Regions from separate parts of the Homo sapiens genome. Here region 1 is linked to region 2. The links come from fine-mapping of genetic effects on gene expression. A gene starts in region 2. The other region holds a variant in brackets. All regions are shown on one strand. Distances are from middle to middle.

What was found. PIP is the estimated chance that this variant, and not a neighbour inherited with it, causes the effect.
Region 1: its variant is the best candidate, but not a certain one, in a credible set for the expression of RPL14 in whole blood (TOPMed, PIP 0.57).

What each region holds. Positions count from the first base shown.
Region 1 is chr3:40,364,460-40,369,698 of GRCh38, forward strand. No RefSeq gene overlaps it. Among named protein-coding and RNA genes, the nearest start is that of ENTPD3, 20 kb to the right of the region's middle. The variant CAA/C (reference allele first, on the strand shown) is at 3,128.
Region 2 is chr3:40,454,723-40,460,231 of GRCh38, forward strand. RPL14 (ribosomal protein L14) reads left to right here and starts at 2,617. Exons shown (of 6, transcript NM_001034996.3): 1 at 2,617-2,752; 2 at 3,168-3,269; 3 at 3,920-4,014. The coding sequence starts at 2,750. RefSeq lists an enhancer at 2,416-2,710 and silencers at 2,853-2,902, 4,116-4,410.

The sequences.
Region 1 (5,239 bases), 90 kb before region 2:
TACCTTTTCTCTTTCTCTTTCTCTTCCTCACTGCCCTCTCCCTGTCTCTAATTTTCTCTCTCTCTCTTCTCTCCATCATCACTGTTTTAAAAATTCACAATGGCATGTTTTTATTTAGCACTTTTAATCTGGACATTTCTTTTCTCCACTTCTGGAAATTTTCATTCTACTTCTTTGATAATTTCTTCCCTCCATTTTCTCTGCTCTATTTCTGGAATTTCTTAAAACTGCCAGTTTTCTTTTATTTCCATTATTCATGGTCTGATTTATTTTTGGTATTGAGTTCATGCTAATATCTGCAGCTGTCAGTGTAATTACCATTGTCATCTTAGTGTGATGGTTCTAGAGCTTGAAATTTCTATATTTAAAAACAACATTATACTTCACAATTAAAACTAAAAACTTAAGTTAGAAGTGTAGGCTAGCGGCCTACATATCACATCTTTTGACTTTGCTCTGGAGTAATTTTTAAATTACACTATTCAAAGGAATACATTTTGCTCTGTTCTCTTCTCCGTAAAGAGTAATAGCAGAGGAATTTAAAAATGAAAGAACACAAGAAAGGCCTTGAGGATGAAATGTGTTTCATCCATCTCTGAATTTTATCTTCTTTTCATCAGCTGGGCTATAGGATGGACCTAAAAAATTGGAGTTCTCTCTTATCAACATGAAACATAGCTAGCAGTCCTGACTGTATCTAAACCCATCTGAGCTATTTTAAGACCTTTGTAGATCTTCAACATTCTGGTTTTTGAAAGCCCCACTCAGAGTCTTATTAAAACTTTTTTTTTTTTTTTTTGAGACAGAGTCTCGCTCTGTCACCCAGGCTGGAGTGCAGTCGCACAATCTCGGCTCACTGCAAGCTCTGCCTCCTGGGTTCACGCCATTCTCCTGCCTCAGCCTCCCCAGTAGCTGGGACTACAGGAGCCCGCCACCATGCCTGGCTAATTTTTTTGTATTTTTAGTAGAGACAGGGTTTCACTGCGTTAGCCAGGATGGTCTCGATCTCCTGACCTTGTGATCCACCCGCCTCGGCCTCCCAAAGTGCTGAGATTATTAAAACTTTTAAAATGCACTCATATCACAAATAATATTGTCCCAGGCACTGTTCTAAGAACTTGGCATACATTAGTGAACAATACTAAGACCCTTACCCTTGTAAAGCCTTTATTCTATATAATTGATATCCAGCTAAGGAAGAGTCAGGTTGAATTGAGTTGAGTATAATTAAATGGTTGGCATGTTGTGTTAGGTAGACACTTATGTTAATACGTCAGGTTAGTCTAGACTGTACTGAGGGAACAAACAGTCCCCCAAATCCCAGTAGCTTAACATAACACAAGTTTATTTCTGGCTCACGACATGTTCATTATAGTTTAGAAGGGCTCTGCTCCATAGACGTAGTCACTGGGAACCCAGACTTCAGAAGGCATCACTGTCTTGTAGCTGCACCAATGAGTACATACGACCTCTTCAGTCTCCACAACTGGGAAGGAGTAAGATGGAGAGTCATGCATTGACTTTTAAATGTTTCATGCTAAAAGTGACAAAGGCCACTTCCAGTCACACCCAATGGCCAGAACCAGCCACAGGCCCTGCCTAACGGCAAAGAGACGGGAAAATGTGGGAAAGCCCAGGAATATTCATAGGTAGTAAATATCTCCACAATAAAGCTTATTTTAATACTTGTTTATTTCATTCTGAAGTTTTCCTTTGACACTTTAAAGTCAATAAATGTTTTCAAGTCTCAGATGTTTGCAGGAAGAACTCATAGGCCCTAAGCATTGTTCCTACAATTATAATAGTTTGCATTATATTTACTGAAAGGTTATTACATGCAGGCATTGTTTTAGGTGCTTTATATGAGTATGTAAATGTGTTGCTCATTTACTCCTCACAACAATGCTATGACGTAGGTACTGTTCCTACCCTCATTCCACAGCTGAGGAAATAGAGGCACAGAAAGGGTAAGTCACCTGCCCAAGTCACACAACTAGTGAATGACTATGCCTGAACTTGTGCCACCTCATCACACTGCCTTTCAGATGTGAAGGATAAACAGCCTGTGGAACATGCAGCATTTATATTTTCTGCCTGTACCAACACTTATGGTCACAATAATGAAAGAGGAAAGAAAAGAAAGAGGAAAAGCAAAACTTCTGTCCAGTTTGAGACCAGTAGTGAGCAGTTCTCATTTTCCTTTGGGTGTGTTTCTAGGCAGAAGAGTACATAAAGAGACAGGAGAAATAGGAGATAACCTTCTTCCTTGAAAAGCTTGAGATTACAATACCCACTACAGCCTGCATGCTGGAAAAAATGGGATAAAGCAGCTACCTAACCAGTGCTATCCTAATGGAATTTATTTTGCCTTCAAATGAGCATCTAATGTGATTAAAGAATGGAAGTTATTAAACAAACAAGGTTTACCAAGGCATTTCTTTCCAATTTTTGTGTGTGAAACAAATGTAAATGTAGCCAACTGGCTCAAGATGTTGCCTTACCCGAAACCTTGCAATTAGAGATTGTAGAACATTCATGACTCAGCACATCTATTCACAGTGCAGGCTGTTTATTTCTGGTTTTGTATTCAATGTGTCACCAAAAAGTGCAAGCAAGACTCAGCAGCATGCAAGCCTGCACTAACATGCACATGCTCAGTAAACTTAGACTAAGAATCTACACTAGACCAAGAGCACATACTGTGCAATCCCATTCATACAGTGTTCAATAACGGGCACCAACCAAGAATTTCATATCCTGCCAAACTGAACTTTATAAGCAGATGAGAAATAAAAAATTTTCCAGACAAATAAATGCTAAGGTAAGGTAAGGCAAGTGATTGTTACCACTATACCAGCCCAAGAGATCCTTAAGGGAGTTCTAAACGTGGAAACGAAAGAATAACACCTGCTACCATGAGAACACACATAAGTATATAGCCTGCAGACCCTAGAAAGCAACCACACAATAAAAACTACAAAGTAACCAGCTAACAACTTCACAATAGGATCAAACCCATATATTGATATTAACCTTGAAATATGTAACTGGCATAATTGCTCCTACTTGAAAGGCACACAATGGCAAGTTGGATAAAAACAAACAAGACCTATCCATCTGCTATCTT[CAA/C]GAGACTCATCTCACACATAATGACACCCATAGGCTCAAAGTAAAAGGTTGGAGAAAAATCTACCATGTAAACAGAAAACAAAAAAGAGTGGGGGTTGCTATTCTTATGTCAGATAAAGCAGACTTTAAACCAACAACAGTAAAAAAAAAAAAAAAAAGGACAAAAGGGCATTACATAACGGTAAAAGGTTCAATTCAACAAGAAGACTTAACTAAATATATATGCACCCACATTAGAGTAGCTAGATTCATGAAACAAGTGTTTCTAGATCTATGAAAAGACTTAGGCACATAATAATAGTGACTTCATAATAATAGTGACTTCAGCACTTCACTGACAGCATTAGACAGATCATCAAGGGAGAAAACTAACAAAGAAATTCTGGACTTAATTTCAACACTTGACTTATTGGACCTAATGGATATCTACAGAATACCCCACCCATCAACCACAGAATATACATTCTTTTCATCTGCACATGGAGCATACCGTAAGATTGACCACACACTTGGACATAAAGCAAGTTTTAATAAATTCAAAAAAATCAAAATCATACCAACCATACTGGACCACAGTGAAATAAAAACAGAAATCAATACCAAGAAGATTTCTCAAAACCACATAATTACATGGAAATTAAACAATCTGCTCCCAAATGACTTTTGGGTAAACAAAATCAAGGCAGAAATTTTAAAAAATCCTTGAAATAAATGAAAACAGAGACACAACATATCAAAATCTCTGGGACGCAGGAAAAGCAGTGTTAAGAGGAAAGCCTGTAGCACTAAATGCCTACCTCAAAAAGTTAGAAAGATCCCAAATTAACAATCTAATATCACACCTAGAGGAACTAGAAAAATAAGAACAAATTAACCCGAAAGCTAGGAGAAGAAAAGAAATAACAAAAATCAGAGCTGAACTGAACAAAGTTGAGACCCAAAAAATTATACTAAGAATCAACAAAACCAAGAGTTGTTTTTTTGTAAGGATAAACAAGATTGATAGACACTAGCTACATAAAAAAGGAAAGGCTCAAATAAGCACAATCAGAAACAGCAAAGGTAACATTACAATTGATTCCCCAGAAACATACAAGATCCTCACAAACTATTATGAACATCTCTACACAAAGAAACTAGGAAGTCTAGAGGACATGGATGAATTCCTGGAAACATACAATCTCCCAAGATTGAATCAGGAAGAAACTGAAACACTGAAAAGACCAATATTGAGTTCTGAAACCAAATCAGTAATTTAAAACAAACCTATCAAACAAAATACCCCCAGACCGAATGGATTCACAGCCAAATTCTAACAGACATACAAAGAAGAGCTGGTACCAATACAACTGAAATTATTTCAAAAAATTGAGAAGGAGGAACTCCTCCCTAACCCATACTATGAAGCCAGCATCATCCTGACATCAAAACTGGGCAAAGACACAAAAACAAAAACAAAAAAACTACAGATCAATATCCCTGATGAACATAGACACAAAAATCCACAACAAAACACTAGCAAACCAAATTCAACAGCATATCAAAAAGTTAGTTAATTCACTATGAACAAGTAAGCTTCACTCCTAGGATACAAGTTTGGCTCCACACATGCAAATCAACAGATGTGACATAAACAGAATTAAAAACAAAAGGCATATATGTTAGTTCCGTTTCACACTGCTGTACAGAACTACCTGAGACTGGGTAATTTATAAAGAAAAAAGGTTTAATTGACTCAGTTCTGCATGGCTAGGGAGACCTCAGGAAACTTACAATCATGGCAGAAGGCTAAGGGGAAGCAAGGCACATCTTTCCAAGGTGAAGCGGCAGACACAGAGTAAGCAAGAGAAGAAGTGCCACACTTTAACACCATCATATCTTGTGAGAACTCACTCACTATCATGAGAACAGCATGAGGGAAACCGGCCCCCATAATCCAATCACCTCCCACCAGGCCCCTCCTCGTGCATGTAGGGATTAAAATTCGAGATGATTTGAGTGGGGACACAGAGCCAAACCATATCACCATATGATCATCTCAATAGACACAGAAAAAGCTTTTGATAAAATCAAGTATCCCTTCATGATAAAAACTAGGCATTGAATGAAC
Region 2 (5,509 bases):
TAACTGGAACGAAACAACACCTACGTGGGCAGCAAAACAAGTCAAACAATTGCAATTGTGATAACTCTGAGGGAAACAAGGTGAGCTAGAAAAAGAAGGGTGGGGACTTAACCTTTTTTTATGTGGTAGCCTGGTTAACTCTCAGAAAAATATCTAGGAAAAAATACAAGAGATAAGTTGGCACTGCTACACGATGAGTATTAACAATGGGTAGACCATTCCTGGCAAGAGAGACACCATGTATAAAGGTCATGGAGGAGGAGAGAGCTTGGCCCATTCAAGACCAGTGTGGCTTCAACACAATGAAGGAGGGATGGCATAAGGTGTATCTGGGTATTAAAGCATATGATACAAGGCCAGAGTAAGAAGTTGAGATTTTATTCCAAATATTATGAAAAGCAATCGAACTGTTAAAAACAGGAAATAATGTGATCTGATTTACTTACTTAAAAGATCCCTCTAACTGCTGAGCAGAGAACAGATTAAAGACAGAATTTAGGAGGCTGCTAGAGCAGTCTCAGGGAAGATATGCTGGCATAGAGCTTAGAGGAAAGGCTTGAAATACATCTGGGAACTGTCATGGCAAAGATCATCACCTTAATCAAGTGATAAAAGGTAACACCTCTCTGCACTGGCCTGGGTAAAAATCTAAAGAATAAAATACCACCACAATATTGGGAACCCATGTGTGGTGGTGTATTCCTGTAGTCCCAACTATTCTGGAGGCTGAAGCAGAACTGCTTGAGCCCATGAGTTCAAGGCTGTAGCAGGCTACAATCAGACCTGTGAATAGCTACTGCACTCCAGCCTGGGCAACACAGCCAGACCCCATCTCTTCGAAAAAATGTATATGTGTGTGGCCAAGCACAGTGGCTCACGTTTGTAATCCTAGCACTTCTGGGAGGCTGAGGCAAGTGAATCACAAGGTCAGGAGTTCAAGACTAGCCTGGCCAAAATGGTGAAACCCTGTCTCTACTTAAAACACAAAAATTAGCCGGGCGTGGTGGCAGGCACCTGTAATCCCAGGTACTTGGGAGGATGAGGCAGAGAACTGCTTGAACCCGGGAGGCAGAGAACTGCTTGAACCTGGGAGGCAGAGGTGGCAGTGAGCCGAGATCGCACCACTGCACTCCAGCCTGGGTGACAGAGGGAGAGTCCATCTCAAAAAAAGAAAGAAAAAAAAAAGTGTTTGTGTGTGCGTATATATATAGAGAGAGAGAGAGTGAAGAGAGAGAGAATGTATTCTGATGTGATGCACCAAGGACATAGCATTTCTACCAAAAATTCACTATCTGAATCCAATGAGGAAAACTCCAACAAACCCATGTTACAAATTTAACAGTTAAATCTAAAACTATCAGTTAAAGACTAGAGACCTGATAAATAATTGCAATTTGTAATCCTCCATTAGATCAAGAGCCTGGAAAAACAATTTTTTTTCCCATTTGCTCCAAGGAACATAGGAGCAACAACTTATAAATTTGAATAAGGACTGAAGGTTAGATAATAGTACTATTGCAATATCAATTTCCTGATTTTGATAAGTGTACTGATGACATAAGAGAATCTCTCTGTTGTTAGGAAATACACATTTTAAGAACGTATAGATAGGCTGGGCATGGTGGCTCACGCCGGTAATCCCAACACTTTGGAAGGCCGAGACGAGAGGATCGTCTTCACTCAGAAGTTAGAGGCTGCAGGGAACCATGATCGCGCCACTGCACTCCAGCCTGAGCGACTGAGGGAGACCCTGTCTCTATAAAAGAATGTAACGCCAGGCACGGCGGCTCACGCCTGTAATCCCAGCACTTTAGGAAGCTGAGGGAGGCAGATCACGAGGTCAGGAGTTCGAGACCAGCCTGGCCAACATAGTGAAACCCTGTCTCTACTAAAAATGCAAAAAAATTAGCCGGCCATGGTGGCGCGCGCCTGTAGTCCCGGCTACTTGGGAGGCTGAGGCTGGAGAATCACTTGAACCCGGGAGGCGGAGGTTGCGGTGAGCCAAGCCCCCGCCACTGCACTCCAACCTGGGCAACAGACCGAGACTCCGTCTTTAAAAAAAAAAAAATGTAGCGATAGAAGGACATCATGTCGGCAATTTCCTTTCAAATGATATAGCACATGCAAAACGTTAACATTTGTGGAATCTAGAAGGGTTTGTGGGAATTATTTGTACTAGTTTAGCAATATTTCTGTAACTGTGAATTACTTGAAAATGAAAGGTTAACAAAGTTACTGAGATTAGGAGAGAACGTGAGGAGCGAACAGACCTAGCCATGAATAACCAACAAATAAAACTCGAGGAAATAAAAAGGAACTCAAATGGCATGCGACCAACGGAAGACATAGCTTCTGTACTCTTAACCCTAAATTACTAAGCGATGACCCTCCTGCAGCTTTCTAATCCAAATCACCAAAAACAATCTCGCCGCCCAACTTTGCCAAAAAGCAACTTAACGCCAGCCGACTCCGCCATGTTTTCCCAGTGAGCTTGCGAGCGCGTGCGTACGCACGCACGCACGCACGCACCAACCAATCGGTGCTCACGTCGGTGACTCGTTACCGCAGGGGCGGTGCGTTCTTCTACACATGCGCAGGGTTGGGCGGGTCTTCTTCCTTCTCGCCTAACGCCGCCAACATGGTGAGTCTTACTGTTGCGGGCTCCGGGGCCGTCGACCATGCCGCTCGACCTCCACCTCCGCTGGGAAGCTGAGGCGCCAAACGGCTCCCAGAGGGTCCCGGGAAGCGCATGGTGAGGGTCCCCGGGCCGGCTGTGCAGCGGAATCGGGCCCTTCCCGGACTCGCGCCCTTCCCGGACTCGCCGCTGGCGAGCGCGTGGAGGGCCCGGCAGGCCTGGCGCGCCTTGGGCCACGCGTGCGCGCCTCCGCCGCTGGAGCTGGATGGCTGATGCGGCTCGTGGTCCGAGAGCCTTGTCCTGCCGTGTGGGCCTTGCGGACCTGGGAGCTGGCGGGCGTTGGGAACCGGGCTTAAGCTACTGAGGCGTTTGCTGATTTCGTCCATCCAGGTTGGCGCCTGGCTCTCGGGCGTTTGTTCCCTGCAGCATTCTTTTTCGCTGAATTTAACCATGTTGTCTTTAGCTGCAGAAGGTGACATATGTAGCGAGTATTTCTAAGTAAGTTTCACTGTCCTTTCTCCTCCAATTTTAGGTGTTCAGGCGCTTCGTGGAGGTTGGCCGGGTGGCCTATGTCTCCTTTGGACCTCATGCCGGAAAATTGGTCGCGATTGTAGATGTTATTGATCAGAACAGGGTAAGTGTCACAACTTTTTACTAAACATGGCAGTGGACATGTGCCCTGCAGATGGCAATAATGAATTGTCTCGATGGCTGTGTAAGATGAGGATGCTATGGGTAGTCGCTTTATTTTACCATTGAGGAAACAGGTAATGGTACGGGTTTTAAGCACAGCCTGAAGTTAGCTATTAGTATTGAATTTCAGTATTAGCCACTTAAGCTAGAGCCAGTTATAGGCTGAAACGTTGGTTAGTTTTAAATGAGTTACTATACGTAAAGTGAGTTTAGAACAGATCCAGCACGTAGAAAGCACTTTTGTATTTACTGCTGTGTATTTGAAACAAGCAAACTAAGGAGTTGACCACTGACTATAAATCAGCAGGGATCAGAGTCCTAAAGTTGCCTGTAAATTACATGTGGTTGGTTTCTATGGGGTACTATATAGTTTAAGAAGGAGCATTTAATGATGTGGAGAAATGTTTGTGTTGAGCAAAAGACATACATATATATAACCCAGATAGGACAATCCTTGTCTTTTCTGAGCAATTTATTAAAATAGTAGTGTGGGTTTGATGGCCCTGAACGGATAAGTAATGTTACAGAACCATCTGACCATTTTAATTGCTGTTAGATTTTGCACTGAAGTTCTTGATGTTTGTGTTCTAGGCTTTGGTCGATGGACCTTGCACTCAAGTGAGGAGACAGGCCATGCCTTTCAAGTGCATGCAGCTCACTGATTTCATCCTCAAGTTTCCGCACAGGTAACTGTCCACTAATCACTCCTCCCTCCCATCCCCAGATTTGTTTATGCTAGTAAAAGTTTGTTTTGGAGTAAACAATACGGAAGATTCAGAGCCATCCTGAAGAGGGATTTGCATCATAGAAGTAGACAGGGATTATTTACTTTTAAAATGTCTTGCCTGCGCGTGATAGCTCATGCCTGTAATCCCAGTACTTTGGGAGGCCACGGTGGGAGGGTCTCTTGAGCCCAAGTTTCAAGACCAGCATGGGCAACATGGCGAAAACCCCCATCTCTACAAAAAATAAAAAAAAAATTCGTTGGGCATGGTGGCACGCGCCTGTAATCCCAGGTAGGGGGGCCTTGGGGGTGCTGAGTTGGGAGGATCGTTTTAGCGAGGTCGAGGCTGCAGAGAGCCGTGATCATGCCACTGCACTCCAGCCTGGATGACAGAGTGAGACCCTGTCTCAAAAATAAATAAATAAAATAAATGCCTTGAGGTCACTTTTCTATCCTGGTAGTTTAGGGCTTTGCCTTTGTTTAGATTTGCCATCTTCTTTTCTTCTGGTTTCTGCCAAATTTTTAGCTTAAAGTAAACAACAATACTAAGTCTTGTGTTTATTGCTACTAGCTATCATTAGATAAGCTCTCAGTGTGTGTCAGTTACACAGTATTTAATATAAGAGGTTTTATCCCTAGCTTACATTTAAGTGAGGCAGTGAATAGCAGTTCTTTTTTGACATGAAAATTAAAACACTTTAGTGTGTTGCTATACAGTTAATTCAACCCACAATGATGGTTGCAGTGGAACATGTAATTTTGCATGCTTTAAAAAATAGTCAAAAACTTGCTGTATGTTGGCCGGGCGCGGTGGCTCACGCCTATAATCCCAGCACTTTGGAAGGCCGAGGCGGGTGGATCACGAGGTCAGGAGATGGAGACCGTCCTGGCTAACACGGTGAAACCCCGTCTCTACTAAAAATACAAAAAAAAAATATTCCGGGCATGGTGGCGGACACCTGTAGTCCCAGCTACTTCAGAGGCTGAGGCAGGAGAATGGCGTGAGCCCGGGAGGCGGAGCTTGCAGTGAGCCGAGATCGCAACACTGCACTCCAGCCTGGGTGACAGAGCGAGACTCCGTTTCAAAAAAAAAAAAAAAAAAAAAACTTACTGTATGCTGAGCACTACAGGCACTGTGGGACGTGTATTAACACATAATGGATTTTGAAGTACTGGTAGTTGAAAACATGCCACTTGAACAACCTCGAGTGAACATAGCCATGCTGCTACTACTGTGACATACCAATTAGGGGTGAAGCTTGAGGATACTTGTCAAAGTTCAAAGCAGTAGAAAATACTTGGTAACTTAGATTTTTCACTAGGTACTCTTGTAATTCTGCCTTGGATCCCTGGACACCCTGGATTTTATTTTTAGGATGTTTGGCCACAAATTGTTACTGTAAATTTTTTTTTAAAAAAAAGCCTAACAGTTAATATTAATTACCTTGTTTGTTACG